Homo sapiens: one gene and its partners. The protein of the gene in region 1 purifies or fractionates together with the protein of each later gene. This does not show direct contact. Each region holds a gene or a part of one and is shown in the gene's direction. Other genes may lie near its edges.

What was found.
Region 2: the proteins of EAPP (region 1) and DHX35 purify together in Homo sapiens (affinity purification with mass spectrometry; 3 studies listed by BioGRID and IntAct, with this or other methods). This does not show direct contact.
Region 3: the proteins of EAPP (region 1) and DDX23 purify together in Homo sapiens (affinity purification with mass spectrometry; 4 studies listed by BioGRID and IntAct, with this or other methods). This does not show direct contact.
Region 4: the proteins of EAPP (region 1) and ECD purify together in Homo sapiens (affinity purification with mass spectrometry; 5 studies listed by BioGRID and IntAct, with this or other methods). This does not show direct contact.

What each region holds. Positions count from the first base shown.
Region 1 is NC_000014.9:34,536,250-34,544,602, reverse strand, and holds the start of EAPP (E2F-associated phosphoprotein), read left to right. Parts: upstream 1-4,901; 5' UTR 4,902-4,974; coding exon 4,975-5,048; intron 5,049-8,327; coding exon 8,328-8,353. UniProt on the Homo sapiens protein: May play an important role in the fine-tuning of both major E2F1 activities, the regulation of the cell-cycle and the induction of apoptosis. Promotes S-phase entry, and inhibits p14(ARP) expression.
Region 2 is NC_000020.11:39,000,028-39,007,522, forward strand, and holds part of DHX35 (probable ATP-dependent RNA helicase DHX35), read left to right. Parts: intron 1-1,702; coding exon 1,703-1,815; intron 1,816-2,744; coding exon 2,745-2,841; intron 2,842-3,721; coding exon 3,722-3,880; intron 3,881-6,118; coding exon 6,119-6,329; intron 6,330-7,495. UniProt on the Homo sapiens protein: May be involved in pre-mRNA splicing.
Region 3 is NC_000012.12:48,834,721-48,842,215, reverse strand, and holds part of DDX23 (probable ATP-dependent RNA helicase DDX23), read left to right. Parts: intron 1-2,109; coding exon 2,110-2,203; intron 2,204-2,306; coding exon 2,307-2,372; intron 2,373-4,135; coding exon 4,136-4,274; intron 4,275-4,558; coding exon 4,559-4,692; intron 4,693-4,822; coding exon 4,823-4,935; intron 4,936-5,178; coding exon 5,179-5,322; intron 5,323-5,421; coding exon 5,422-5,647; intron 5,648-5,949; coding exon 5,950-6,095; intron 6,096-7,495. UniProt on the Homo sapiens protein: Involved in pre-mRNA splicing and its phosphorylated form (by SRPK2) is required for spliceosomal B complex formation.
Region 4 is NC_000010.11:73,164,636-73,172,881, reverse strand, and holds the start of ECD (protein ecdysoneless homolog), read left to right. Parts: upstream 1-4,873; 5' UTR 4,874-5,016; intron 5,017-8,246. Other genes in the region: primary cilium assembly protein FAM149B1, read right to left, coding at 4,496-4,542. UniProt on the Homo sapiens protein: Regulator of p53/TP53 stability and function. Inhibits MDM2-mediated degradation of p53/TP53 possibly by cooperating in part with TXNIP. May be involved transcriptional regulation. In vitro has intrinsic transactivation activity enhanced by EP300.

The sequences.
Region 1 (8,353 bases):
TGGAAACGGTTTCAGTCCCCAGCCGAGACCCTAGGCATCAGGGAGCAGAACATCAAAACTGCGGACTTGGGATACAAATGAATGATCACTGTTGTTGCAAAGCCCTTACGTTTTGAGGGTGGTCTTTTCGTGAAGCAATAGAGAAACGGAACGGGGAGACGGACAGTGAGCAGACAAGCAATAATACGAAGCAGAAGGGGGAAAAACGTGGACCAAGGGATAGAGAAGAGGGCATGGAGAGAAAAGGCTGGGGTTGAGGGCTTAACATATTAGACAAGGGGGTCACGGAAAGCCTCCCTGCTTCTCTCTGTTTGCTCCAAACTCTTGCTTCTCTTTGCTTGCTCAGCATCAGCGCATAGCGCATAGAACCCCCAAAGGCCACCCCACAATGGCAGCCTCAGCCCCAGAATTTACGTGTCCTGTTACAAGTCCTAGGGCCACAACAAACTCTCTGGACTCATTTGATTTTCTTCTAATGTTTTATACACACACACACACACACACACACACACACACACACACACACATATATATATGTATTTTTTTTTTTTGAGACGGCGTCTCACTCTGTCAGCAGGCTGGAGAGCGGTGGCGCAATCTCGGCTCACTGCAACCTCCGTCTCCCGGGTTCAAGTGATTCTCCCGCCTCAGCCTCCCAAGTAGCTGGGACTACAGGTGCTCGCCACCACGCCTGGCTAATTTTTGTGTTTTCAGTAGAGACGGGGGTTTCACCATATTGGCCAGGATGGTCTCCATCTCCTGACCTCGTGATTTGCCCTCCTCGGCCTCCCAAAGTGCTGGGATTACAGGTGTGAGCCACCGCACCCGGCCTCTCATGTAAAATAATTAAAAAAAAAAAAATTCTGGGCCGGGCGCGGTGGCTGACGCCTGTAATCCCAGCACTTTGGGAGGCCAAGGCGGGCGGATAACCTGAGGTCAGGAGCTCAAGACCAGCCTGGCCAACATGGTGAAACCCCGTCTCTACTAAAAAATACAAAAATTAGCTGGGCATGATGGCGGGTTCCTGTAATCCCAGCTACTCCGGAGGCTGAGGCGGGAGAAAAACTTGAACCCAGGAGGCGGAGGTTGTAATGAGCCGAGATCGCGACATTGCACTCCAGCCTGGACGACAGAGTGAGACTCCGTCACAAAAAACAAAAAACAAAACAAGAACCAAAAAAAACACATAAAAAACAAACAACAACAACAACAAACGAAACCTCTAATCACAGGTCAGTTTTACTGTTTCTCAGGTCCAGACTCGTTCTGTGCTGTTGGCAGGGTATCCTGCAGTGGCCACTCCTGTCTTACTAACAGACCCTGATTTTGTCCACAGGATCAACACACCCAGCTAAAACAGCTCAACTTCCTCATCACACAACACAGTTCTGGCCAGTTAGACACACGTCCCCGGAAAGGGCATCTCCAGGAGAATAAAAAGGCCAAGCCACTTTTTGAAGAAAGTCTTTGTCCCTACCCCCTTTTTCTACCTGGAAGTCAGACTCAGGCCTGGAGTGTAGCGGCCGCCTTGGTACCTGGAAGCAACAATCATGGCCGGGAGACCTTACACCTGGCATGGTAGAGCAGACGGAGGAGGGGCCGCCTGGTGAATAGCCTGGCCAACAGCCCCAAACTGCTACCCCTTAAATTCTGGGTAGGTGAGAAAAATAAGTCCTGTCTAAGCTGCTCATTGTTTTAGTTACCTGTAGCCAAAGTTAAATCCTGCCTAAAAGGGTTCTCCCCTCATTTTTATATTACATGCCATTTTTTATTTTATTTTATTTTATTTTATTTTATTTTATTTTATTTATTTAGAGACAGAGTTTCGCTCTTGTTGCCCAGCCTGGAATGCAATGGCGCGATCTTGGCTCACTACAGCCTCTGCCTCCCAGGTTCAAGTGATTCTCCTGCCTCAGCCTCCCGAGTAGCTGGGATTACACGCACCCGCCACCACGCCCAGCTAATTCTTTTTTTTTTTTTGAGCCGGAGTCTCGCTCTGTCGTCCAGGTTGGAGTGCAGTGGCGCAATCTCAGCTCACTGCAAGCTCCACCTCCCGGGTTCACGCCATCCTCCTGCCTCAGCCTCCCGAGTAGCTGGGACTACAGGTGCCCGCCACTGCGCCTGGCTAATTTTTTGTATTTTTAGTAGAGACGGGGTTTCACCGTGTTAGCCAGGACGGTCTTGATCTCCTGACCTCGTGATCCGCCCGCCTTGGCCTCCCAAGGTGCTGGGATCACAGGCGTGAGCCACCACGCCCAGCCAAAAAGTTGTTTTAAAATTTTTTCGAGAGATAGGATCTCGCTTAGTTGCCCAGGCTGGTCTTGAACTCCTGGGCTCAAGCAATCTTCCCACTTTGGACCCCCACAGTGCTGGGATTACAGGGGTAAGCCACCACACCCAACCTCAATCTTCTTGTGATCTGTTATGTTGACAACCAAGACAGCTACTTAGTGGTTGGTTGATGGGTGGACAGTGTATACAGCATGGACACACTGGACAGAGGCATGACTCAATGTTCCAGGTAGGACGGCAACAGATTTCATCACGCTACTCAGAACAGCACAACATTTAAGACATAAATTGTTTCTGGAGTTTTTCATTTAGTATTTTCAGATTTCAGGTGACTGCTGTAACTTGAAGCAAGAAAAGTGAAACTACAGAAAAGGGAGGACCACTGGACGGCTGCTTTCATTCTACGCCCACTTTTTAGAGTGCATTCCTACAATAAGCACCCTAATAATGTAAACCAGGGGCCAAGGGATGCACCTTCCACTCTACTTCCTTCCCCAGAAAAGACCACCTTGGTAAATACAGAATGGCAAACGGTTAAGTGAAACACTGTATAGCTTCTGGCCCTATACTTAGTATTTCTTAACATTTACACAGCATTTTCACATTTCCAAAGCAGAGTACCAACATTTATTAATCCTCACAACACCCCTGTGAGGTAGGTCAGTATGTCCTTTAGAGTCGAGAACTGAGGCAGAGGTCAAGCAAACCTGCCCTGGGCCACAGAGCAGCAGATGAAGGGCCTAGACCTGGATCCAGAAGCTAGGGCTCTCGGTCCAGCATTCATCCACTGGTGGACATCACATGGGCTTATTTTTACCAGCGAAGGTTACGTGAAGGACAAAACGCACTCAGCCAGCAACGGAAACTCAACAGTTCAAACAGCACTGGGGAACATGTCAGTTAAAGAGACGAAACGCTGACCAGCTCATGAATGAGGCAAGACAACATGCGGCTGAGGAAGTGTGGAATCATCACGACTGGGGATTAGACCAAGAACGGGCGCTCAGGAGGGTTCAGGAAAATGTAAACAAACTAGGAACCCATCCAAGGGGTGACAGGCCCAAATGCCTACGGTCTCCAAATGGTAGAAAAATTAGAAAAAGATAGTGGAAAAATCCAACCACGCAACCTTAACTTTAAACTAGGAATGACAATAATGTGTCTAATGTTCATTCACACTAGAAAGGCCGATAATGTTTGTAATATAACTACTGGCGATAGTATCCTATTTGTATGCCAACTTTCATCTCAAGTATTCTGCTTTTCTTTCCCCACAGACAAACAAGTGTTGTTCTTTACAGCAGACCTCTTTCCCTCTACATACCAATCTATCCACTCGCATAACTACTAAGTGGCTCAATGGCCTATGTCTCATGCTTAATTGGCTGAGCTAGGCGCGGAATCCGGGAAACCACAACAGACTGTACTCTGCTCCTGTATTTCAGGAATAACTGTCACTAACCTGCTTCTGTCCGATTCCACCTTCTATGAAGTACACACAGAGGAGCAGTTCATTCTTTTGTAAAGGGATTGGTGGACTTTGTTCGAGATGCCATTTCAAAAGAAATGAGAAAAAAGAAAAACTAAGACCTGCACTGTAAAGCATAATACAGGAGTAGATTTATTACAGCTACTCCACATTTTAGAGAGTGCCACAGTGTCTCGGTAGGAGGCAGGAACCCGAGTTCCTGGTTCAGAAACAGGGTTAGAAACAGTCTCCCGATGGAGCTCAAGTGGCTGTCATCTGCCTGTTCTCCTCAGGTATCGAGTGGGATCAGTTGAGGGCTGAGCAAAAGTGGGGACTGGGAAGATGACGAGAAAAGATAACTTTTCGTAGATTGTTGAGGCCGCAGTCAGACTGAGGAGTGAACAGTGTGAAGGAGAGGTTGAGAGCCTCATGGTGTGGAAGGCATAAGGGTTAGAGGCGAGGTTGGAGGGATGTGGGTGCTGGTGTCTGAGGACTTATTGGATTTCGGGCTGTGTGTCCCTCAGCGTCTAGATTCCTGCTTCGTAGGTGATGAGACGCTGCATGTAGCATGTTCACCTCAGAGACTGTCACTTATGAGGGTGCCCATCATTATTATTTTTGGTGACAAGGTAGCTGCTATTTTCCTGTAAGCAGAAGCTGCGGAAGAAAATGGTGGGATTGGCCGGGAGCGGTGGCTCACGCCTGTAATCCCAGCATTTTGGAAGGTCGAGGTGGGCGGATCACCTGAGGTCCGGAGTTCGAGACCAGCCTCAACATGGAGAAACCCCCGTCTCTACTAAAAATACAAAATTAGCCGGGCGTGGTGGTGTATGCCTGTAATCCCAGCTACTCGGGAGGCTGCGGTAGGAGAATTGCTTGAACCTGGGAGGCGGAGGTTGCGGTGAGCCGAGATCGCGCCATTGCACTCCAGCCTGGGCAACAAGAGCGAAACTCCGTCTCCAAAAAACAAAACAAAACAAAAATGGTGGGATTAAGACCCGCCCCCGTCCCGTCCCCGCCCCTTTTCGCTCCTGCTCCGCCCCTTCCCCGCCTTCTACCTGCCTCCCTCGGTGCTGTCGGTCTGCGCGGGCGCGCAAGGGGGACTGGGACGTTCAGGCGGAAGTGGCGTCAGGGGCGCTTTAGGGACTGGACTTGCAGTGTAAACAGAGACGCTGCAAATTGCTTGTGGACGGTGTAGGCCGCTGCAGGCCACCATGAACCGGCTTCCGGATGACTACGACCCCTACGCGGTTGAAGAGCCTAGCGACGAGGAGCCGGCTTTGAGCAGGTGGGCTCCCGCCCCACCCTGGCCCCCGAGGATTTGGGTCGAGGCCTGGCTTTGGTCGCCTCCATTCGTTGCGCCTGCCGAGCCTACGCAGACCCTAGCGGCTCGGGAGCCTGTCGTGCCTGTTACTTGTGCGAAGCCAAAGGGCTTTCCTGATGGGGTCGCGCAGTCCCGGGGGGAGGCGGTGCCGATGTCGCCTGTAGGAAGAGGGATATTCCGGAATCACGGGGGACCGCGTGTAAATCTTCAAAAGCAATGAGATCGAAACCTGTCTCTACACCTTAGTAGCAGAGTGACGGAAGGCAAGTCAGTTATCCTCGATTACTCACCTGTAAAATTGAACTATAATAACATAATTGTATAACCTATATAACATAGTATAACACACTATGTTTGTTGTGAGGCTCACAGGACTTAATGTGAAGTGTCCATCTTGAAGACTAAACTGCCATAAACAGAAATAAGGGAATATTGAACAGCCTTTTTTATTTTTATTTTTTGACAGGGACTGTTGTATGCTCGCTCTGAGCTACAGAGATAAATCATAAGGTCCTTGTCTTCCAGAGGCTTATAGTATAATAAGGGTAATAAGATAAAGTATATATTTCTTGGCAGAGCATTGTAGAGAATATTGACCTGAGATAGGCACAGAAGAAGGTTCGTGGGATTTCCAGAAGGGTGGGCTTTATTCTACCAGGGAAACTTGAAGCTGTTTTGCCGAGATATTTCCACACAAATTTAGTTATTTCTTAAGCTGTCAGCAGATCCTATTCTTAAACTTTAAAACATTCATTCTGCCTAAAGAAGCTTTCTGTAAAGCCATGCTTTCATTAACAACTTTGGCTGGGTGTGGTGGCCCATGCCTGTAATCCCAGGACTTTGGGAGTCTGAGGCGAGAGAATCTCTTAAGCCTGGTAGTAAAGGAACAGCCTGGGCAACATAGTGAGACCTCATTTCTTAAAAAAAAAAAAAATCAAAAGAACAATGTTTCCTCATATTGTCATGGGGAGACATTGGATGCATGGGAAATCAGACTGCTGTTAAGATTTCTTTTGTTGGGAGTGAGGATAGATACCAGGATTCCCTGTGAAAAAGAGTTTCAGTTAATGGGTCCTGTCTGTGAAAGGAGGTATGTATATATGTATGTCTCAATTATTTATTTATTTATTTATTTATTTTGAGACAGAGTCTCACTCTGTCAGCCAGGCTGGAGTGCACTGGTGCAATCTTGGCTCACTGTAGCCTCCACCTCCTGGGTTCCAGCAATTCTCCTGCCTCAGCCTCCTGGGTAGCTGGGATTACAGGCATGCGCTACCACACCTGGCTTATTTTTTGTATTTTTCGTAGAGATGGGTTTTCACCACGTTGGCCAGGCTGGTCTTGAACTCCTGACCTTAGGCAATCTGCCTGCGTCGGGCTCCCAAAGTGCTAGGATTACAGGCCTGAGCCACGGAGCCAGGACTGTTGTATCATTTTTTTAAGGAAGCTTTATAATTCTGTGACAGTTGCCACTGGTAAGGTAACTGTAAAGATAAATATTATAAAAACAAAACAATGTTATCAGACAGTATTGCCTGTTGTAGGCTCTGAGCCAAATGGTTATTATTTTAAAAAGGGAGATTAGTGTTAGAGAGGTGTCTGTCAGTATTTAATTTTACACTGTTTATAAACTAATACATTGTAGCCTGTTAACTGTTTCACGGTAGCTGACCGAAGACATGAGACTCCTGGGTCAAAGATAAGACTACACATAGCACAGCAAGCAGCATGAGCATCATGTTTGTGTGGCTTGCTCTTGCTTGTCAACCCTACAGGTATTACGCTGAGGGTCCTAGAAGAATGCTGCACATTCAGTGGGTTGGCATCGTGGCTAAAGACTACTTGAGCTTGGAGAATCCACCTCTTTCATAGAAGACAGTAAATACATCTGCTCTTTGTCCTGGAAGGAGACATTATCTCATTCCTCAAGGTTGTTGTTCGCTGCAAACACAATCCTGAGAAATGGCTGGAGTGAACAGTGGTCAGAACCTTGCATTCTTGGCATACTTAACTTGCATATCTAGGGTCCATGATGTATGACTGCCTTTCTCAGCAGTGCTGAAAACTGAGACTTTGGTTGAGATAATGACAAGGATTGAAGAAAATTTGTAGAAAAAATAGCTCTCACTTTGTGATTCAGTTTTTAAAAATTAAACATTTTATTTTGAAGTTTTCGTAGATTCACATTCAGTTATAAGAAATAATACAGGTCTGGTGCAGTGGCTCACATCTGTAATCCCAGCACTTTGGAAGGCCAAGGCAGGAGAATCACTTGAGCTCAAGAGTTCAAGACCAGCCTGAGCAACATGATGAAATCATGTCTTTACTGAAAATACAAAAAATTAGCTGGTATGGTGGTGCATATCTGTGGTCCCAGCTACTCAGGAGGGTGAGGCGGTTGGTTGGCTTGAGCCTGGGAGGCGGAAGTTTCAGTGAGCCAAGATGGCACCATTGCACTCCAGCCTGGGCAACACAGGGAGACCCCCATCTCAAAAAATAAAAAATAATAAAAAAAAAAGAAATAATACAGAGAGATCCTGTGTACTCTTTCCCCAGTTTCCTCCAGTGTTAACATACTACAAAACTATAGTGCAGTATCACAACCAGGATATCTATCTATCTATATATCTATCTATGTATTTTTTGAGACGGATTCTGAATCCTGTAATCCCAGCTACTTGGGAGACTGAGGCAGGAGAATCGCTTGAGCCCAGGAGGTGGAGGTTGCGGTGAGCAGAAATCATGCCACTGTACTACAGCCTGGGCGACAAGAGCGAGACTCTGTTTCAAAAGAAACAAACAAACAAACAAACAAAAAAACCATCCTGGGCAACATGGCGAAACCCCATTTCGACAAAAATTAAACAAAACAAAACAAAACAAAAAAACAGCTGGGAATGGTGGTATGTGCCTGTAGTTCCAGCTACTGGGGAACCCGAGGTGGGAGGATTGCTTGAACTGGGGAGGTGGAGGTTGCAGTGAGCTGAGATCATGCCACTGCACTCCAGGTTGGGTCACAGACTGAGATGCCATCTCAAAAAAAAAAAAAAAAAAAAAAAATTAAAGAAGATTGGAAATATGCAGAACTGGCTTATTAAGTGAGAATAGCTATATGTAATGTATAAGTACATCAAATGTAACCATGTAATACTTAAAATTGTTGTTGGACAGTGAGATGCTGGGAGTTTAAAATTATTTTAATTTTTAAATATTCATATTCTTTTTGATTTAAATGTATGCTAGCTCTGAGGATGAAGTGGATGTGCTTT
Region 2 (7,495 bases), on another chromosome or scaffold:
GAGAGAGCTGACTCAGAGATGAGGAGGCCTAGACCTTGCCTCTGTCCTCCCTTAGGGACCCCTTTACATTTTAGTCCATACTGTGCTATTGTCCTGGGAAGGGATGTCTCCCCCTTCCCAGCCAGTAATAATCCTCCTTAGCCTTTACAGTGCAGGCAAGGGATACTGCTTTCTCCATGAAGCTCTCCCTGAAAGCCGGTAGTTCTTAACTTTTCCTTCTATCAGATTGCAATCTGCAGCTCTTTCCTGGTCACAGGGTCATCTGCCTCAGGGATTATTTTATGATCAACTCTTTGCACGTCTGCCTTCTGTGAACTGTTTACTCTTTTGGGGCATGGGGTGTCTGTTCCCACTTGTTTGTATGTCACTTCTAGTGTACCTGTGCTGTGCATGTCATAGGGATGCAGGAAGGCTGAAGCAACTTGAAGGGAATTTACCCAAAAGAAAGTGAACAGGAGTACTGTGTGGAATTCTGCATAGCAAAACATAGTTTTGTTGACATGAGGCACTTTGATGTCTGTGCTTATTCTTCTCAATTTTGAGGTTAATATATAACATCCCTGTATTTTGTGGTTAAATCCAGTTTACTCTTTTAAAAGTACCCCTCAGAGCCCCTTCACTTAGCGTTTGATGCCATTCGTTAGCACAGCTCCTGGGCTCCTGGGTTTCCTGGAGCAGGATGGGCATGTTTTGTAAAGGTACATAGGGAAATAAAGACAAGCTTTGTAGTTATGTAGCCAGGCCTCAGGGAAATGAGTAGAGGTGGGGAATGGAAAGGGCACCCAGATTCAAATAATGGAGCACTCCACCCGACGGGATATCCATGCCCCCTCTGCAGTGGGCACCAGCTGCTTCCCATCTGGTGCTCACTTGCCTGCCTGCATGGTCACTTAGCTCTTCTCAGTCTCAGCTTCTCTTTGTACCTTAGGGTCACATTCCCCAAGAGAGGATCTTTGGTGGCGTTTCCTTCCCCCATCATTGGCTGGAGCCCTCAAGACAGGTCTCCTTGTGGGCTGCAAGTGGTGGTCAAGTACCATTAAATAGGATGTGGACACCTGTTTGGCAGAAACTGCCAAGAGACACTTCTCCCAACAGGGTACTGCACGAGTGTTGGGGAAGTACATGATTGATGGCCTACCCCATACAAAGCCTCGCACTCACTACTGTAGGGCGTGTAAAGATGGAGAAGACACTATCCCTGCCATCAAGTGGCCTAAAACCAGTAACAATGGGGCCGGAAACACACCTACTGTTCACAGAAGGAAAAGTTTCCTATCAAATGATCATATCTGTGTTTTCCAGATAGAGTTACCCACCAACCTCATCTAACCTGTACTGAACTTGAGTCACACCTTTGACCTAATTTTTGCTTAAATGAAATACAGAGGATAGGAATAATATAAATAATACTAAAGCTACATGTTAACTCAGATGCTATGCTGAATGCAGTTTTGAAATCTAACCTTTATTATTTTTATTAAAACTTTAGTAAAGACACTGTCATTGAAATGTGATTCCCCACAATTACAGTTAGAAAAATGTGAATTTAAAAAATGTATTTTGCAACCCATAATCTGTATTGCACATATATAATCTTGCTACTCACCTGTCTTTGGCAAGTTTTATATTATTTTTTCTTTCCATGAATCGCTACGAACCTTTTTTTCTAAGAGAAATGAAGAATTAATTTTTTTCTTTTTAGAAATTCCGGGATTTCTTTAATCAAAATGAAACCAGTGATCCAGCAAGGGATACATGTGTGATCCTTACAGTGGAAGGGAGAACATTTCCGGTGGATATCTTTTATCTACAAAGGTTTGATGATGCTTGAATTCTGGATGATGGTGTTTAGAAAACTCAGCCTCTGATGTAGAATGTCAGAACTGCATTTGCTCACAACTCTAAAGGATGGGGAGGAGCATGTTTTGTGTCCCTAGTCATTGGTCTAGAATGTTCTTACCCTGCTCCGGATCACTGCTGAATTTAGTTTAAACTGTTCACACTGACATGCAAGTTTCCGTAAGTCTGTGGCCAGTAGCTCAGCCAGAGAGAGCAAAAGTGGTGAAAGGTTTTGGGGAGGGAAGCTTGATAGTTTTCAGAACTGGGGTTTACAAGGCTGCCTGTCAGCAGGGGCAGTATTGGTGATTTGAATCATTTGGCTCTCAGTTCTCTACATCCCTAGCGAGAAGGCCCAGTTGGCATTTTTAGGAGTAGCCTACTTGGACAAGGAAGGGGCCATCCTAATTCCTGTACTAGTCACTGGACAAAAAAAGACCAGGAGCCTGTTCCAGTGGCTGATAAATCCAGAGTCGTGGACTTGATTTCTGAATCGTTTTGTTGGAGAGCTCATCCATCAGGGCCATCCAGCCGACCCATAGATGCTGCTATTGGTTAGGAGGGAAAATGGGCTGGGAAGAGCGTGGGCTTCAGCACTGGGACCACAGCTTCCGATTTTCACTGGTCTGATGTCTTTGCATACTAAAGATAGCACATCTATTTGTATGGGTATATCATGTTATTTCTTTCCAAATAAAGCTAAAAATCATAGTTGACATATAATTATGGATTATTCTTGAATATTAGATTTGAAAAAAATGAATATTTATTTTGTTTATCCTGTACTAATTACCTACTGGGCAGGCCCAAACTCACTTTGATGAGCTTTGCTGCCAGATTATTAGGGTAATTGATCTGTAATTAATGAGCATATTCTAGTGATGAATTCATCCCATTTGTCTTTTCAGTCCTGTTCCAGATTATATCAAATCAACTGTCGAAACTGTGGTGAAAATTCACCAGACAGAGGGAGACGGAGACGTTTTAGCATTTCTTACTGGCCAGGTAATGCCACTGTACTTCTCTGATGAATAGACATGTTAAGACAGCACCAAAAGTAATACAGAGCCTTGTTACTTTACTCAGTCATGTATTTCATGTTTTGTTGTATTTTGTGGTTCCATAATTGTGTAGAAAATTGATTTGATGTCATTCATCTACCATCTAGATTGTCAGGGACTCGTTAGCCCCTGCCTGTTCTGTCTGCAGAGGGTTAAATGTTTTTTTAAATGTATTAGCTGATTCCAAAATAAACTAGGTAGTTGAGTGAGGGCTATTTTGTTTGCCAGAATTGGATACTACATTAGGTCCATGTCCTGCACACATGTTGCTGCTGTGTACCTCTTTTTCCAGTGACACCTTTACAGCTCATCCTGGAGGTGATAAGTGGCCATATTACTGGTAAAACAACTGAACAGACCCAAGTGCTCGCTGACGGTGGCCAGCACTATTCAGACCTGCCCTCCAACTGTAATCTTTTCCACTGCCAAACACTTTCCATGGTTCAGTAATCTTTTTTGGAGAAAGCTTACAGTGATTTTATATGCTGCAACTTGTCTATATGCATGAGATGCTTGTTTGACACCGTATATGTATGCTGAGTAAAATAGTCATCGTTTTTATTTATTGGGAACTCTTCCATTCATTGCAGATCATACCGAGTTTTTAGTAACTAATAGTGTAGTTGCAAAATTTCACCCATTGTCATCATTGTGTATTAGCATTTAATTAAATACCATCCCAGAGTGGAACATGACGGCACTGAAATTCTTGAATCTGACCAAAATTAAAGTCCAGATCCCAACTTTTATTTTCTTTCAGTATGATAAAATAGCATGCTTTAAATTGATCTCGGTTTCTTTGGTTCCTGGTTCAACGTCTTTAGGAAGAGGTAGAAACTGTTGTGTCGATGCTCATCGAGCAGGCTCGAGCACTAGCTCGCACTGGGATGAAGAGACACCTCCGAGTTCTCCCCATGTATGCAGGACTGCCTTCCTTTGAGCAAATGAAAGTGTTTGAAAGGGTGTCACGCAGTGTCAGAAAGGTGAGACTATCCTGATGACCAAGGGTGTTGGCAGCCGTCTATAATCATAATGATGCTCCTTTACTTGTTTTGAAACTTGCTAAACACAAGGCAGACTTCTAGGTCCATATTTCTGTGTAGTAGATCTAAAAGCACACAATAAATAATACATTGTGAAGATTTCTTTTTTTTTTGAGATGGAGTCTCGCTCTGTTGCCCAGGCTGGAGTGCAGTGGCGCGATCTCAGCTCACTGCAAGCTCTGCCTCCCGGGTTCACGCCATTCTCCTGCCTCAGCCTCCTGAGTAGCTGGGACTACAGGCGCCCGCCACCACACCCGGCTAATTTTTTTTTGTATTTTTAGTAGAGACGGGGTTTCACTAAGTTAGCCAGGATGGTCTCGATCTCCTGACCTTGTGATCCGCCCACCTTGGCCTCCCAAAGTGCTGGGATTACAGGCGTCAGCCACCGTGCCCGGCCTGTTGTGAAGATTCTAAACCTGTCCCACTGAAGGATCACTTTGACAGTAGTTATCAGATCAGGTGACTTCTCTTTTCTTCTCTTCTGCCTTCCTAATATTTCCCACGACACATGCTTACTTTGGCTTAAGGGATTGTTTAGGGGGATTGAGGTCAGTCAGGAGCAATAGAAAAATTGGTACACATGGTTTCTAAATAATTTGTTTTAAGTATCAGCTTGCCTATTTTAAAGGGCCAAGTTTAAATCAATTAATTCAAGGTGTGGCTTAAAAATGTTTAGCCTTGAAGTGAGAGTGAGGAAGGGTGTGGTGGAAAGCATTGGTTTGAAGGAGCTGGCAGGCAGCCAGTCCACCTGGGCCTGACTCTGCCTTTTCCTTTCATTAGATGAGGACTGCACAGAACCAGCCCGAGGACAGCTTTTACTGTAGTAGCTATTTATCAACAGATGGCAGAGAATAGAGCAGGTGAGGGATGGTCTGAGGATCCACTCCCAATTTCAGACCACCTGGAAGAGGGTGCTCAGCCCCTTGACCATTGGGATGGAGCAACATGAGTCTGCCCTGTCAAACATTAATTGCAGCCAGCCAATCAGGAGACCTGGATTCTGCCCCTGAGCTACTATGTGCCTTGGGACAACTGACTTAACCTCGAATCTGAGTTTTTGCAGCTGTAAAACGTAAATAATAATAACTTTCAGATAGGTGGTTTTATAGCATAACATCTTAATCCCAACTACATAAAAATATTAGAAAGATTATTTTATAAAATGATCATTTATAAAATAATTTTTATAAAATGATTTATAAAATGTAAAGTGCCTGAAAAAAGTTCTAACTGCTATATATATGTGTCCCCTGCTACTTAAACCCTTCAGGGGCAGCTCCCAATGTACTGGGAATAAAATTCAAATACCTCATGGTGGCCCAGAGACCACATATGATTGCATATCTGCCTCCCTCTGCAACCTCATCTTGTACTTTGTATTTTGGCTGCACTGGCTGTTTCTCCTTCCTTTGAACTGTTTCTTATTCTTGGATCTCTATAGGGTTGGCTGCTGCTTGTTACTCAGGTCTCTGCTCAAAATCTTTCACAGAGGCTCTGCCTGGCCAACAAAAGTAAAGTAGCATGCCCTATTATTACAATAATATATAATATACATGTTATATACTACATCATATCATATTGCCTCATTGTGTTAATATTTTCTTTATAGTATTTGTTGTTCTCTGAAATTATCTTCTTGTTTATGTTCAGCATGTCTTCACCCTAAACACTCAAACTAGAATGTAAACTCTGGCAGAGCAGGGGCCTTGTCTGTCTTGTTTATCCTACATCCCAGCACCTTGAACAGTGCTTGGCAAAGTGCACACCCTCAGAAAGTAATCATGATATGAATGAATAAATGACTATACCTGCGCAAGATGGAGGGTGATTTACTTTGGTTATGCCAAAGGGAAAAACTAACAAATGCTAGGCTCTGATCACTTTATATATTAATTGTATATAGTCCCTTCAGTAGCCCTAGGGGAGGTGGTAAATCTTATTATGTAGATGAGGAAACAGGTTCAGGAGGTTGAGTAACTTGTCCAGGGTCACATGATTAGGGAGAATTCAAACCCAGGGCACCCCCTGACTTGGAAACTCACAGTCTTTCTAGTATATTAAACTGCCTCTCACAGATTCTGCAATGTTGGAAATGTTAAATCTTTTAGGATTTTTACGAGTTTGTTAAAAGCAAAAAGAATAAAATGAGTTTTATTCTTCTTTCTGTGGGGAACGTAGGTGATAGTGGCCACCAATGTGGCAGAAACCTCTATCACAATCAGCGGCATTGTGTATGTGATCGACTGTGGCTTTGTGAAACTCCGAGCCTACAATCCCAGGACAGCTATTGAATGCTTGGTGGTGGTGCCAGTCTCCCAGGCATCAGCTAATCAGCGAGCAGGACGTGGTGGTCGTAGTCGCTCGGGAAAATGTTATCGCCTTTATACAGGTTAGTGTGGCTTTCCCTAAGGGTTTTTGACTTTCTTATAGTCAGCCTGGGCAACAGAGTGTAGCAAATGTTTACTCCTAATGGTAGAACTTAACATAAAATACAGGCCTTCCTCACAAGGCCCTGTGTAATCAGATCCCCACTGCTTTCCTCACTCTAAATATGGTGTTTCTTTGTTACTAGTCCCCATTGGCCAAAGCTGGCCTGTGAGTGACTGCTTATTTGCTATCCTGTTCTAACCTAACATCTGGGCACAGGCCTGTGTAGCCATTTGTCCCTAGGGTGTGGGCTGTGTGTCCTGGAGCCTGTCTTTCTTGCCTTTCTTTCTTGACTTAATGTGCTGTTTTTGTATTCCAAGATCCCTGAGTCTTGCGGAGCCTCACATTGGGTTCCCCTTTTACTTCTGGTTCAGAGCATCTTTGCCAAGTGAAAATGGAAGGTCTGTCCGGAGACTCATTCATAGAAAACAAATAGTTGGTGAGCTCCTCCTCTGTGCTGTGCATCATGCTAGGCTCTGAGGGAACAGAAGGCAATTTTAATACTGTCTCAGCCTTTCTGGAGCTTTCTATCCAGCTTGAAGACAGCCTTACCTATAGACAGTGATGGACCCAGAGCTGCTCTTTCTCTGCACTTCTCTTCTGTGGGGAATGCTGCTGACATTTTCCCCAGTTGTCCAGACTCAATTTCCAAGTCATTGTTAATTCTCTTCTTTATCCAGTATCCATCTGCATTCACTTAACCAGGCCCAGGGTTTTTTATTTTGTTTTGTTTCTTCTGGTGTGGCTGCCCCTAAAGAAGGTCCAGGGGTTTTAGCTCTGCCATTTGTCTCTTCTTTTCCTTTCTGGTTATTATTGTCCTTGTTCAGTCTTTGATGTTGATCTTTCTTTTAGCAGATGTTTGCAGAGCACCTGCTGTATGCTGGCCACGGTGCTAGAGCTTGGAGATCTGGGGCTAGTAACCATGGTCTGTGGCCACAGTGACTGACAGTCTGGTGGTGGAGGTAGACCTCAAAACAGATCAGCATATTATGGTATGATAGGGAGCCATAAAGAATCGGGAGCCTTGGAAGCAGAGAGCAGAGGCTTTTCCTTGGGCTGTTTTCCCTGCCCAGCAGATCTTCCTTATCTTTCAAATCCTCTCTCAGATGGCAGTTCCCTCATGAAGCT
Region 3 (7,495 bases), on another chromosome or scaffold:
CCTGGACGGGGCGGCTGGCCGGGTGGGGAGCTAACCCCCCCCACCTCCCTCCCGGACGGGGTGGCTGCCGGGCGGAGACGCTCCTCACTTCCCAGACGGGGTGGCTGCCAGGCGGAGGGGCTCCTCACTTCTCAGACGATGTGGCTGCCGGGCGGAGGGGCTCCTCACTTCTCAGACGGGGCGGTTGTCAGGCAGAGGGTCTCCTCACTTCTCAGACGGGGCGGCCGGGCAGAGACGCTCCTCACATCCCAGACGGGGCGGCAGGGCAGAGGCGCTCCCCACATCTCAGACGATGGGCGGCCTGGCAGAGACGCTCCTCACTTCCTAGATGGGATGGCGGCCGGGCAGAGGCTGCAATCTCGGCACTTTGGGGGGCCAAGGCAGGCAGCTGGGAGGTGGAGGTTGTAGCGAGCCAAGATCACGCCACTGCACTCCAGCCTGGGCACCATTGAGCACTGAGTGAACGCGACTCCGTGTGCCATCCCGGCACCTCGGGAGGCCGAGGCTGGCGGATCACTCGCGGTCAGGAGCTGGAGACCAGCCCGGCCAACACAGCGAAACCCCGTCTCCACCAAAAAAATACGAAAACCAGTCAGGCGTGGCGGCGCACGCCTGCAATCGCAGGCACTCGGCAGGCTGAGGCACGAGAATCAGGCAGGGAGGTTGCAGTGAGCCGAGATGGCAGCAGTACGGTCCAGCTTTGGCTCAGCATCAGAGGGAGACCATGGAAAGAGAGGGAGAGGGAGACCGTGGGGAGAGGGGAGAGGGGAGAGGGAGCCTGAAGCTTTTCTATCTATGGATTCTTCTCTGAATCTTTGGGGGTTTTTTTGAGATGGAGTTTTTGTTCTGTTGCCCAGGCTGGAGTGCAATGGCACGATCTCGGCTCACTGCAACCTCTGCCTCTTGGGTTCAGGCAATTTTCCTGCCTCAGCCTCCCAAGTAGCTGGGAATACAGGCATGCGCCACCATGCCTGGCTAATTTTTGTATTTTTAGTAGAGACAGGGTTTCTCCATGTTGGCCAGGCTGGTCTCGAACTCTTGACCTTAGGTGATCCGGCCACCTCGGCCTCTCAAAGTGCTGGGATTACAGGCGTGAGCCATTGTGCCTGGCCTGTATACAGAGTTCTTATCAGGCCCTGAAAGTATAGGTTAGAATTCAAGGCAGAGGACAGAATGCTCCTAACAGAAACTCAGTGGGGTTGTTTGAATTATCTTGTAGATTAAGCTTAGAGCAGGTATGGGGAAAGGATTGTTGGGATTGATAGGAATGAAAAATGATGAGGGAATATAGATAGCAGTATCTTCTTGGCTTGTGGTGGTGGCCATGTAGGCTAAATTCATTGTATATTAAAGAGTTAAGGAGGGCCAGGCGCTGTGGCTCACACCTGTAATCCTAGCACTTTGGGTGGCCGAGGTGGATGTATCACCTGAGGTCAAGAGTTCGAGACCAGCCTGGCCAACATGATGAAACCTCGTCTCTACTAAAAATATAAAAATTAGCCAGTGGTGGCAGTACTCGCCTGTAGTCCCAGCTACTCAGGAGGCTGAGGCAGGAAAATTTCTTGAACCCAGGAGGCGGAGGTTGCAGTGAGCTGAGATCACACCATTGCACTCCAGCCTGGGCGACAGAGTGAGACTGTGTCTCAAAAAAAAAAAAAAAAAAAATTTTTCTCTAAACAACCACACCTGGCTAATTTTTGTGTTTTTACTAGAGACAGGGTTTTGCCATGTTGGCCAGGCTGGTCTTGAACTCCTGACCTCAGGTAACCCACCTGTCTTAGCCTCCCAAAGTGCTGGGATTATAGGCATGAGACACCGCGCCTGGCCTAGGGGAAATATTTTTGACATCAGTAGTAAAGTCCCACTTCCCAAAAGAGATTAGTCTCAAAAGGAGATTTGGGTAGAAAGGGGCCAAGACAGGGCCATAATTAGGTTTCAGAGCTGGCAGAATGACCATGCCTGCTAAGAGAGTTTCAAGACATGATAGATGACCATGGGCCAGTCTTGTTGAGTCATGGGGAAACTTCCATTCTCTTTTCGGGGCTCAACTTGAACCTCATCCAGGCACTGAAGTAAGAGTGATGTGGACCTTGTTCCTTTTCCTCAAAGCTTATCTCCTGGTCGAGGAAAAGACTTTAAATCTCGGAAGGACAGAGACTCTAAGAAGGATGAAGAGGATGAACATGGTGATAAGAAGCCTAAGGTAAAGGAGAGGAAGGATATTTTTCATCTTCAACTCGTGCGTTGCTTTGTTGATCTTTAAAGGGAGAGAGCCTTTATAGACTAAAGTTCTGTTTTATCTTCAGGCCCAGCCATTATCCCTGGAGGAGCTTCTGGCCAAGAAAAAGGCTGAGGAAGAAGCTGAGGCTAAGGTAAGTACTTGAGGGTCTTCATTCATCGGCTCAGGCTGCCATAACACAATACCACAGACTGGGTGACTTCAACGACAGAAGTTAATTTTCTCACAGTTCTGGAGGCTGGAAGTCTGAGAGCGGAGTGTCAGCAGGGTTATTTCTTCTGAGGTCTCTCTCCTTGGCTTATAAGGCTGTCTTCTTCCTCAGCTCTTCACATGGTCCTCCCTCTGTACACATGTACCCCTTGTGTTGGATTAGGGCTCACCCTAAAAGGCCCTTTTTTTTTTTTTTTTTTTTTTTTTTGAGACAGAGTCTCACTCTGTCGCCCAGGATGGAGTACAGTGGCATGATATCGGCTCACTTCAACCTCCACCTCCCAGGCTGAAGCAATCCTCCCACCTCAGCCTCCCAAGTATCTGGGACTACAGGTGCGTGCCACAACGTCCAGCTAATTTTTGTATTTTTTGTAGAGTCCAGATTTCACCACGTTGTCCAGGCTGGTCTCGAACCCCTGGGCTCAAGTGATCTGCCCTCCTTGGCCTCACAAAGTGCTGGGATTACAGGCGTGAGCCACTGTGCCCAGCCTAATGGGCTCATTTTAACTTAATCACCTCTTTACATGTCCTGTCTCCACATATAGTCAAATTCTGAGGTACTAGGAGTTAGGGCTTCCACATAGGAATTTTGAGCTGGGTACAGTGGCTCACACCTGTAATCCCAATACTTTGGAAGGCCAAGATGGGAGGATCACTTGAGCCAGGGATTTTTAGACCAGCCTAGGCAACATGGTGAAAACCCATCTCTATAAAATTTTAAAAATTAGCCATCTGTGGTAGCATGCGCCTGTAGTCCCAGCTACTCAGGAGGCTGAGGCAAGGATATTGCTTGAGCCCAGGAGGTTGAAGCTGCAGTGAGCCATGATGACACCACTGTACTGCAGCTTGGGCAACAGAGCGAGAGTCTGTCTCAAAAAATATATATAACACATGCATTGTTTGTTTGTTTGTTTGAGATGGAGTCTCGCCCCGTTGCCCAGGCTGGAGTGCAGTGGCATGATCTCGGCTCACTGCAACCTCTGCCTCCCAGGTTCAAGCAATTCTCCTGCCTCAGCCTCCTGAGTAGCTGGGATTACAGGCACGTGCCACCATGCCTGGCTAATTTTTTGTATTTTTTTAGTAGAGATAGGGTTTCACTGTGCTGGCCAGGCTTGTCTTGAACTCCTGACCTCGTGATCCGCCCATCTCGGCCTCCCAAAGTGCTAGGATTACAGGCACAAGCCACCGCACTCGGCCACATTTTTTTTTTTTTTTTAAAGGTAAGGTCTTGCTCGTTTGCCCAGGCTAAAGTACAGTGGTGCAATCACAGCTCACTGTAACCTCAAACTCCTGGGCTCATATGATTTTCCTGCCTCAGCCTCCTGAGTAGCTGGGACTATATGCACATGCCATCATGTCTGGCTGAGTTTTTTTATTTTTGTAGAAACAAGGTCTGCTATGTTGCCCAGGCTGGTCTTGAACTCATGGCCTCAAGCGGTCCTCCCATCTAGGTCTCATAAAACACTGGGATTACAGGCATGTGCCACCACGTCCAGCCTGAAAAAACATATGAATTCTGTAGGGGACATAGTTCAGTCCATAACCGAGTCCAAGGCCTATTTGTGTTTTCCTCAACAGGCTTAATGCCTGAGCAAATACTTTTGGGTTCCCTGCCATCTCCCCATCAGTGATGTGATTGTACCCTGCTCCCAGATCCTTTGTTGACAGTTCCAATCTCTTTTGTAGCCCAAGTTCCTCTCTAAAGCAGAACGAGAGGCTGAAGCTCTAAAGCGACGGCAGCAGGAGGTGGAAGAGCGGCAGAGGATGCTTGAAGAAGAGAGGAAGAAAAGGAAACAGTTCCAAGACTTGGGCAGGAAGATGTTGGGTTTGTTATTCTACCCTGTGTAGCCCCTAGATGGAAGAGGAAAGAGTGGGATGAGATACAGTGTCTCTTAGGAGAGATAGAAACCTGTTCACTCTGGAGTTTGGAAAGGGGAAGGATGGTGGGAGTTTATGAGAAAACATTTTTCTGTTAGATCTCCATTTACCCCATATCATAAGTCTACCCCTTTTTTTCTTCATTTGGGGTTCCTCGTCTGGATTCCCTCCATTCCCTCTCCTCTTTTCTTCCATGAGCTCTTCTGCAGCTTTGCTTTCTTTGGTCTGCAGAAGATCCTCAGGAACGGGAACGTCGGGAACGCAGGGAGAGGATGGAACGGGAGACCAATGGAAATGAGGATGAGGAAGGGCGGCAGAAGATCCGGGAAGAGAAGGATAAGAGCAAGGAACTGCATGCCATTAAGGTGCAGGCCTTGGCTCCATCTTCACTTCTCTCCCACACAAAAATGAGGTTTAGTTATTTGGCCATTGTGATCTCTGCATGTGAGAATTGGGCCTCAAAGCTCATGTGCTTTGTGTTCTGTCCCTGGGTAGGAGCGTTACCTGGGTGGCATCAAAAAGCGGCGCCGAACGAGACATCTCAATGACCGGAAATTTGTTTTTGAGTGGGATGCATCTGAGGACACATCCATTGACTACAACCCCCTGTGAGTGGCTTCAGGCCTGAGTTCTAGGTCTTTTCCACTAGGCAGTCCTAGAGAGCTGATGACTACGGAGGTGGAGGAAGTAAGATAAGCTGGGATGGAAAATTGGTAGACTGGTAGTCAGCCAGCCCTCTGGTGGAAGAAAGACCCTGTCTGGGAAGAACTGTTTCATACTAGTAGTCTGCCCTTCCTTCCTACTGCCGTTAACAGCTCCTTCTTTTTTCTTTTCCTCTATCTCAATCCCAGGTACAAAGAACGGCACCAGGTGCAGTTGTTAGGGCGAGGCTTCATTGCAGGCATTGACCTCAAGCAGCAGAAGCGAGAGCAGTCACGTTTCTATGGAGACCTAATGGAGAAGAGGCGAACCCTGGAAGAAAAGGAGCAGGAGGAGTGAGTGATCAAGGCTAGGGTGGCTGGACAGAGCCCAGAGGCTCTACAGAAAGGAGTTGGAGGGCACTGATTCTACTTACTCCTCACACCCTGCTCCAGGGCAAGACTCCGCAAACTTCGTAAGAAGGAAGCCAAGCAGCGCTGGGATGATCGTCATTGGTCTCAGAAAAAGTTAGATGAGATGACGGACAGGGACTGGCGGATCTTCCGTGAGGACTACAGCATCACCACCAAAGGTGGCAAGATCCCCAATCCCATCCGATCCTGGAAAGACTCTTCTCTGCCCCCACACATCTTGGAGGTCATTGATAAGTGTGGCTACAAGGTAAGGAGGGATAGATTGGCCCAAGAGATCTGACATGTTCCTACACTAGTTTGGGAATAGAGAACTTTGTTCCTTGACTATTTGGAGCCATCGCTGCTAGTGGGCACCAATGTGACCTTTTCTGTCACTTTCTGGTAGAAGTGTTGGCTTTTAGTGATTAGGTTTCTTCTTGGGGTCCCTATTTCTGTGAACTGTACTTGGCATCCTTCCATTGTGCTAGCAGATGTGCTTACTACTATCAGTGGTTGCCCAGGTGGTATAACTCTCCCTGTACCTATTACTCTTTCTTGGGGTCACTGCAGGAACCAACACCTATACAGCGTCAGGCAATTCCCATTGGGCTACAGAATCGTGACATCATTGGTGTGGCTGAGACTGGCAGTGGCAAGACAGCAGCCTTCCTCATCCCTCTGCTGGTCTGGATCACCACACTTCCCAAAATTGACAGGTGAGGTCAGCTAGCACCAGCTGGAGTGGGTTTGTCTGGGTAGGAAAGGTGAAAGTGGCAAATGAATGTTTGATTTTTGTTTTACGTCTATAATCAGAAGCTTTCTTCTTTATTCTTTGTTGGATATTAGGGAATAATTGGATCATGATATCGAAGAAGTATATGTTGCTGGCAAAGACCTGGAGAACTTTGCTATCCTGGAGTCTCTGATTTATTTTATTTATTTTTTTGAGGCAGAGTCTCACTCTGTCACCCAGGCTGGAGTGCAGTGGCACGATCTCAGCTCACTACAACTTTTGCCTCCCAGGTTCAGGTGATTCTCCTGCTTCATCCTCCTGAGTAGCTGGGGATTACAGGCGTGTGCCACCACTTCTAGCTAATTTTTGGTTTTTTGTTTTGTTTTGTTTTTTGAGACGGAGTTTCGCTCTTGTTGCCCAGGCTGGAGTGCAATGGCGCAATCTCGGCTCACTGCAACCTCCTCCTCCCAGGTTCAAGTGATTCTCCTCCCTCAGCCTCCCAAGTAGCTGGGATTATAGGTGCCCGTCACCATGCCCGGCTAATTTTTTTGTATTTTTAGTAGAGACGGGGTCTCAATGTTGGTCAGGCTGGTCTCTAACTCCTGACCTCAAGTGATCTGCCTGCCTCAGCCTCCCAAAGTGTTGGAATTACAGGCGTGAGCCAGTGTGCCTGTCCTTAATTTTTACATTTTTAGTAGAGATGAGGTTTCACCATGTTGGCCAGGCTGGTCTCAAACTCCCGATCTCAACTGATCTGCCTGCCTTGGCCTCCCAAAGTGCTGGGATTACAGGCGTGAACCACTGCACCTGGCTGAATCTCTGATTTTTATGTATTTATTATTTATTTATTTATTTATTTTTTGAGATGGAGTCTCGCTCTATTGTCTAGGCTGGAGTGCAGTGGTGTGATCTTGGCTTACAGCAACCGTTGCCTCCCAGGCTCATATCCTCCTACCTCAGCCTCCCAAGTAGCTGGGATTACAGGTGTGTTCGAACATGCCCAGCTAATTTTTGTATTTTTTGTAGAAACAGGGTTTTACCATGTTGCCTAGACTGGTCTCAAACTCCTGGGCTCAAGTGATTCACTCACCTCAGCCTCCGAAAGTGCTCGGATTATAGGCTTGTGCCACCTTGCCTGGCCTCTGGACTTATTTTTATTTTTATTTTTTTTGGAGACAGAGTGTCTCTGTCACCCAGGCTGGAGTGCAGTGGCGTGATCTCAGCTCACTGCAACCTCTGTCTCCTGGGTTCAAGCGATTCTTCTGCCTCAGCCTCCCGAGTAGCTGGTATTACAGGCGCCGGCCACCACGCCTGGCTAATTTTTGTATTTTTATTAGAGGCAGGGTTTCACCATGTTGGCCAGGCTGGTCTCAAACTCCTGAC
Region 4 (8,246 bases), on another chromosome or scaffold:
TCCTCCTACCTCAGCCTCCCAAAGTACTGGGATTCAAGACATGAGCCACTGCACTCGGCCAATTTCACCTTTCTTTTTTAATGTGACCACCTGAAAATTTTAAATTACATATGTGGCTTATATCATATTTGTATTGAATATTGCTGCTCTAGAGACTCCAATGTATGCACTGGATTAAGCTATGGGGTCAATCATTATATGTTCCAGTAATCTATGGGGTCAATCAATATATGTTCCTAGTAATCTGCGGTAGACTTTCCTCACAAAACTCTGTAGTCAAATACATTCAGGAACTGTAATAGGTTGAACAAAGTTACACAGATTTCTTTACAAGAGATCTTCCAGGTCTTTAATATGCAAATGTTTATCATAAATCTCAAATACTCTCATTTCAAAGGAAACTAAGGCACAGAGGGATTAAGTAACCTGCTTAAGGTCATTTGGTTAGTAAGCGATGAAGCCAAGATTCAAATCCTAGTAATCTGGCTCTCAGAGGAAGGCCTCTAGAAGGAAATGAAGAGTTTGAGATTTTAGTGAATTGTACCATTGTTCTATATAAAGATAAAGCTAAGAGCCCAGTCAGTGGAGCTTGCACTTTAAATTATTTCTCAAATTGTGGAGATCAATTTGTGCAGACTTACCTGTATGTCTCTCATTCAGTGGTCCTACAACCAAGAGCTTGTCTTTGAAAAAGTGGAAAGGATAAGAAATACAAATTCAAGCTATGAAATAGAGACTTAAGACATTTTTTAGTCTGCCAGGGAAATCTATGAATTGACAATTAGATAACAAAAAATATCATTAAATTTAATAATGGCACTATGACTACATACAAAAATGTCCATAATTTTTAGAGATGCATAATGACATATATAGGGGTGAAATGGCAGTATCTGCAGTTTTGCTTTCGTTATTTCACAGAGAGGTGCAGAGAAGTTAATAAAAGGATAAGGAGGCCAGGTGCGGTGGCTCACGCCTGTAATCCCAGCACTTTGGGAGGCTGAGGCAGGCAGATCACGAGGTCAGGAGATCGAGACCATCCTGGTTAACACGGTGAAACCCCGTCTCTACTAAAAATACAAAAAATTAGCTGGGCATGGTGGCGGGCACCTGTAGTCCCAGCTACTCGGGAGGCTGAGGCAGAAGAATGGCGTGAACCTGGGAGGCGGAGCTTGCAGTGAGCCGAGATGGCACTACTACACTCCAGCCTGGGCGACAGAGTGAGACTCTGTCTCAAAAAAAAAAAAAAAAGAAAGAAAAGGATAAGGAAGATAGATGAAGCAAATATATTAACTTTGTTAACTGTTGAATGTGGGGTGACAGGTAGTGCATGATACTATTCTCTATATGTTTATGTTTGAAATTTTTCATTAAAAAATGTTAAGCTGTATGTTGAAAATCATTCCTTTCCCATACTCTTTTCAACAATTATAATTTTTAATGGCTAGGTAGAAAACTAAAGTTACGGCTTCAAAGCAGGTTATCATTATTATAACATCTAAAGTAAAAATTGCTTTGAATTTGCTCCCATTAAGATACATTTTATCTTCATTATCTTCATTATTCACTTCATCCTGACTCCAGCTACAGAATCATCTTTTGGGCCTTATAGGGAGTATCAAATCAACAATCAAGAACAAGTAGGCCAGGCGCGGTGGCTCACATCTATAATCCCAGCACTTTGGGAGACCGAGGCAGACAGAGTCCAGGAGTTCAAGACCAGCCTGGGGTGAAACCCCATCTCTACTAAAAATACAAAAATTAGCTGGGCATGTAGTCCTGTGACTTGGGAAGCTGAGGTGGAAGAATCACTTGAACCTAGGAGGTGGAGGTTGCAACTGAGCCAAGATGGCACCACTGCACTCCAACCTGTGCAACAGAGACTCCGTCTCAAAAAAAAAAAAAATAGAAAGAAAACTGATACAACTATACTAGTTAATAATAATTCTGGCCCAACAAGTGCCTATCATTTTTTTCCATACAAGATTTTTTTTAACTTTCAGAATGGTTGGAATTAATCATAAAAGCAGATTTTTAGCTAAACCTCAGTCACTTTATTGGGAAAAGACAGTTTCCTCACAATTTTTTTTTTAAGTAGGAACAACACATCCCAAATCTAAGAGATGACTGTTTCTTCTTCCTAGTTCCCAAAGAGTTTACTAGGAACTAAACTGCTACCATGTAGATATCTTATTCCTTAATAAATAATAAGCTTCTAAAAGGCAAAGAGAGGTTTTAGACTTATTTTCTTTGTATGCCTATTGTATCCCAAGTAAAAGTGCGAAGGGACAAGGAAAATACCATTTATTGAGGATGTATATGTGTCAAGCTCCACACCATCACTTTATTCTTATTTTTATTTATTTATTTATTTATTTGAGACAGAGTCTTCCTCTGTCACCCAGGCTGGAGTACAGTGGTGTGATCTCGGCTCACGGCAACCTCCGCCTCCCAGGTTCAAGCAATTCTCATGCCTCGGCCTCCCAAGTAGCTGAGATTACAGGCATGTGCCACCATGCCCAGCTAATTTTTTGCATTTTTAGTAGAGACAGGGTTTCACCATGTTGCCCAGGCTGGTTTTGAACTCCTGAGCTCAGGCAATCGCCCACCTTGGCCTCCCAAAGTGCTAGGATTACAGGTGTGGGGGTCCACACCATCATTTTAAATAAGCTTTTGGATAAGGTGTTACTCCTATATTGCAGAAACGAAGGCTCAGTGATGTAGTAATTTGCCTAAAAGTCACGTGGCTAGAAGACAGCCTAGCCAGAAACCCAAGAATGATTCAAAATAGCATGCTTGCAATTATCATGTATGTGCATAATTAATATTTAATAAATTAAATAGTTAATAATTAATATTAATAGTTAATATATTTATGGTTGCTAAAATTACATAGCTAAATGAAAGGAAAAGTTAATATTTAATTAATAAATTTATGGTTGCTAAAATTATATAGCTCCATGAAGGAAAAAAAATTGGAATTTGGGGTTAAAGCCCAAGCTCAACTCCTGACTTTTTGGCTATATAATCTTAAAATATGTAACATTTCTGATATAATTTCATCTTCTGAAAGACTGAAGATAATCATACCCACTTTACAGAGTTGTTAAGATCAAAAAGTGAAGTGAGCTGGGCATGGTGGCTCACGCCAACACTTTGGGAGGCCAAAGTGGGAGAACCGCTTGAGTCCAGGAGTTTGAGACCAGCCTGGGCAACATAGTGGGACCCTGTCTCTACCAAAAAAAAATTTTTTTTTAATTAGCCAGTTGTGGTGGTGTGCACCTGTAGTCTCAGCTACTCAAGAGGCTACATTGTGAGGATCACCTGAGCCCATAGGTGGAGGCTGCAGTGAGCAAGGATTGCACTACTGCCCTCCAGCCTGGACAACTGAGCAAGACCCTGTCTCCAAAAAAAAAAAAAAAGTGAAGGCCCTTTTGGAAGTGTAAAGCATTAATAAATGTATGACACTATTATTACTTTCTAAATTATTATACACCACTTCGGTCAGGGTAGGGGGCAGCTCTTTTTATTTTTTTATTATTTATTTATTTATTTTGAGACGGAGTTTCACTCTTGTCACCCAGACTGGAGTGCGATGGCGTGACCTCTGCTCACTGCAACCTCTGCCTCCCGGGTTCAAGTGATTCTCCTGCCTCATCCTCCCAAGTAGCTGGGTTTACAGGCCCCCGCCTCCATGCCCGGCCATTTTTTTTTTTTTTTTTGCATTTTTAGTAGAGATGGGGTTTCGCCATGTTGGCCAGGCTGGTCTCGAACTCCTGGCCTCAAGTGATCCGCCCGCCTCAGCCTCCCAAAGTGCTGGGATTACAAGCGTGAGCCACCACGGCCGGCCGTGAGGGTGGATCTTTTTAAAGCCAGAAATATTTGCTCTTTAAAGTCTCAAAAGCAAAACTGATCTTTATGGATTCTGGTGCTTAATTGCAGAGGTGGGGAGGCAGTATGTGTGATGGTTATGACCACAGGCTTCGGAATCAGATCGACATCAGGTTTGTACCTCTCAGCTCTACCACCTTCAAGCTGTGTGATCTTTGGCATGCTACAATCTTTAATTCTGGGATCTTTATCTGTAGAATGTGCAAAATAATGTTCCCAATCTGATATCATTGATAGGAATGAGCAAATGTATGTAAATAGCTTTGCACAGTGTCAAGTGAGCACTTTCCTGGAGCCCTCAGTTAGCTATTAATAACTTCTCGAGCTACCATGGCCATTAACAATGGGACCTGAAGCACTGCGGATGCTACAAATGCTTCAGCAGACCCAGTGCTTGATTTCAGGAATTTCAGACGAAGGGCGACACGCCCTCAGCTGGAGATGGAGGAAGAAGGGGCAGGGTCCAGCAGGGCTGAGAGGAGAGAATTCCGAAGAAAAATCTCTCCCCAGCCCTGGGAAAGGAAAGGAACGAAGGACTGGTCAAGGAGGGTCCCCAGAGCGCCCGCCGCCCGCCCCGGCTGGGGTGGCTGAGCAGTCCACTCACAGCTCCAAGCTCTGTGGCACCGCCTTCCGAGTGTATCTGGAGATCATCCTCCTCCTCCTCCTCCTCCTCCTCCTCCTCAGCCGCGGCCGGGGCAGGCACGCCAGGGTGGGGGCCTCCGGGCCTGGCCCTCCCGCCGGCTCCGGCCCGGCCCCTCCCGCCACCTACCGGCCCCGTCTCGCCCCGTCACCTAGACTCCGAGCAGCCACCTCCCCAGGGTCCCCACCTCTCCAGTCCTCCGACCTCCCTGCTTTGCCGCGGGGGCGGAAGTGACGAAGGCCCCCGGACACTCGCAAAATGCTCCCGCCGACGCACAGCAGTGACGACACACAAGGTTTCGGGGACTGAGTGGGTTTCAGACTTTCTCTCAGGATTTCCGCTGGCTTCAGGTTCCGGTCAGGCGTCGGGACAGAGCCTGATCCAGGCTTCGGCGGCCGGTGGCAGCTCTCGATCAGCTCTCGCAGTCGGAGAGGCGGCTAAGGAAAGGTGCCACAGCAGAGACGCGAAGGAGAGGCCCTAGAACCGTAAGAGAAATTGGCTTCATTTTGTTAGATGGCAGGAGGGAGCCTAGACTGGGGAAAGAGCACTAGACTCCAAGTCAAGCCCCTGCTGCTTGGTCGCTTCTTTTTCTGTACTCTGGGTTTTCTCATATGTACAGTGAGGTATTAGCCTGAGTGATCATAGAGTCCCTTCCAGTTCTGACACCAAATTCTGCATGATGACGTGTGTTTGGCGTTATGGGGTGGATGGGTAAAATTACTGTCTGTCCCTCTGGGTTGAAAGGCAAAATGATGATTTGGTTAGACTGTGGTGAGTGGGTGTCTGGATAAGAAGAAGCAGGTTCCTTACGAGTCTCTTAGAAAGCTGAGTAAGATTGGAATCATGGAGTTAGGGTGGTCCATCCACCGCCATTTCTTTCTTTACCAAGCATCACCTGGCAGCAAGAATAAACTAGTACTCTTATTTAGGAAAACCCTTAGAAAATTAAGAGATAAGGAAAACCCTTAGAAAATTAAGAGGTATCAATGCAACCTCCATCAAAATACCAGTGACATTCTTCACAGTCATAGAAAAAAGATCCTAAAATTTATATGGAACCACAAAAGAGCCAGAATAGCCAAAGCTATCCTGAGCAAAAAGAACAAAACTGGAAGCATCACATTACCCGACTTCAGATTATACAACAGAGTTATAGTAACCAAAACAGCATGGCACTGGCATAAAAACAGGAACAGAATAGAGAACCCAGAAACAAATCCATATGTCTGCAGTGAATTCATTTTCAGCAAAGGTACCAAAAACATACATTGGGGAAAAGACAGTCTCTTCAATAAATGATACTGGGAAAACTGATACCCGTATGCAGAAGAATGAAACCAGACCCACTACCTCCCACCATATACAAAAATCAAGTCAAAATGGATTAGAGACTTAAATCTAAGCCCTCAAACTATGAAACTACTAAAAGGAAATATTGGGGAAACTCTCTAGGACATTAGAGTGGGCAAAGATTTCCTGAGTAATACCTCACAAACAGAGGCAGCCAAAACAAAAATGGACAAATGGGAGCACATCAAGTTAAAAAGCTTCTGCACAGCAAAGGAAACAATCAACAAAGTGGAGAGAGAACCCACAGAATGGGAGAAAATATTTGCAAACTACCCATCTGACAAGGGATTAATAACCAAAATATATAAGGAGTTCAAACAACTCTCTAGGAAGCAGTCTAATAATTGATTAAGAATTGGATAAAAACTCTGAATAGACATTTCTCAAAGAAGACATAAAAATGGCAAACAGGTTTATGAAAAGGTGCTCAATATCATTGATTATCAGAGAAATGCAAATCAAAACTACAATAAGATAGCATCTCACCCCAGTTAAAATGGCTGTTATCCATAAGACAGGCAATAACAAATGCTGGCAAGGATTTGGATAAAACACTGTTGGTGAGAATGTAAATTAGTGCAGTCACTATGGAGAACAGTTTTGGAGATTCCTCAAGAAACTAAAAATAGAGCTACTATATGATCCAGCAGTCCCACTGTTGGGTATTTACCCAAAAGAAAGGAAATCAGTATATCAAAGAGATATCTGCACTCCCATGTTTATCGCAGCACTATTCTCAGTAGCCAAGATTTGGAAGCAACCTAAGTGTCCATCAACAGATAATGAAGAAAATGTGGCACATACACACAATGGAGTGCTTTTCAGCCATAAAAAAAAAAATGAGATTCTGTTATTTGTAACAACATGGATGGAACTGAAGATCAAGTGGAACTGGATGGAAGTGAAATAAGGATGGCACAGAAAGATAAACTTCAAATGTTCTCACTAATTTGTAGGAGCTAAAAATTAAAACAGTTGAACTCATGGAGATAGCAAGTAGAAGGATGGTTTACCAGAAGCTGGGAAGGGTTGCAGAGGGTTTGTGGGGGAGTATGGTTAAAGGGTACAAAAAAAATAGAGTGAATGAAAACTAGTATTTGGTAGCACAACAGGGTGACTATAGTAAATAATAATTTAATTGTACATTTAAAAATAACGAAGTTCAGATGAGAGCATGTCCTGGCTATAAAAATTTTTTTAATAAAAATAACTAAAAGAGTATAATTAGAGTGTTTGTAACACAAAGGATAAATGCTTAAGGCAATGGATATCTCATTTACCCTGAGGTGCTTATTATGCATTGTATACCTGTATCAAAATATCTCATGTACCCCATAAATATATACACCTACTATTTACCCTTAAAAATTAAAAAAAAAAAACAGCACTTTGGGAGGCCGAGGCAGGTGGATCATGAGGTCAGGAGTTTGAGACCAGCCTGGCCAATATGGTAAAACCCCGTCTCTACTAAAAATACAAAAATTAGCCAGGTGTGGTGGCGTGCGCCTATAGTCCCAGCTACTCGGGAGGCTGAGGCAAAAGAATCGCTTGAACCTGGGAGGCAGAGGTTGCAGTGAGCTGCGATCACTCCACTGCACTCCAGCCTGGGCGACAGAGCGAGACTCCATCTCAAAAAAAAAAGAAAAGAAAAAGAAAAGAAAAAAAGAAAAGAAAGATATACCTACCATCCCATGAGACTTGAAAAAGGGGCAAATTTAGGACAGAGGTAAAATGACAGGACATGAATGTTTTGTAGTTCTGAATTCCTCTACGCCATACAATGTTCATAAAAGAGAGAGATGTACATTCTGTAGAGCAAGACAGATTGTACTTTAGAGTTTAAATAACAAAATTTTAAAGCAGGGAGAGATTTTAGAGATGGTAGATAACTTATCCTAAATTAAAGAAAAAAACCCAGAAAGAGAAAGTGAAATGTCCATAGTGGCACAACTAATTAGTGGCAGAACTGGGGTTTTTGATAGTATGTAAACAGTAGGTGTTAGTGCAGTGTTTCTCGAAATATATTACACATACCACTGCTAGTACAAGGGCAAACATTAAAAATTTCATTCTTCACTTCCAAAATAGGAAAAATATAAAAAGTAAAGATTTTATTCTTACATACTTACTAATTGGGGAATGTGATACTAGATTTCTATTCACTGTATTATATCAAGGTTTCCTTTTAACGTAATTTTAAAGATAAAGTTTTAAGTGTAAAGGGTCATTAAAAATAATATTAGGCCAGATGCCTATAACCCCAGCACTTTGGGAGACCAAGGTGGAAGAACTGCTTGAGCTCAGAAGTTCTAGGCCAGCCTGGGCAATATGGCAAAACCTTGCCTCTACTAAAAATACAAAAAAA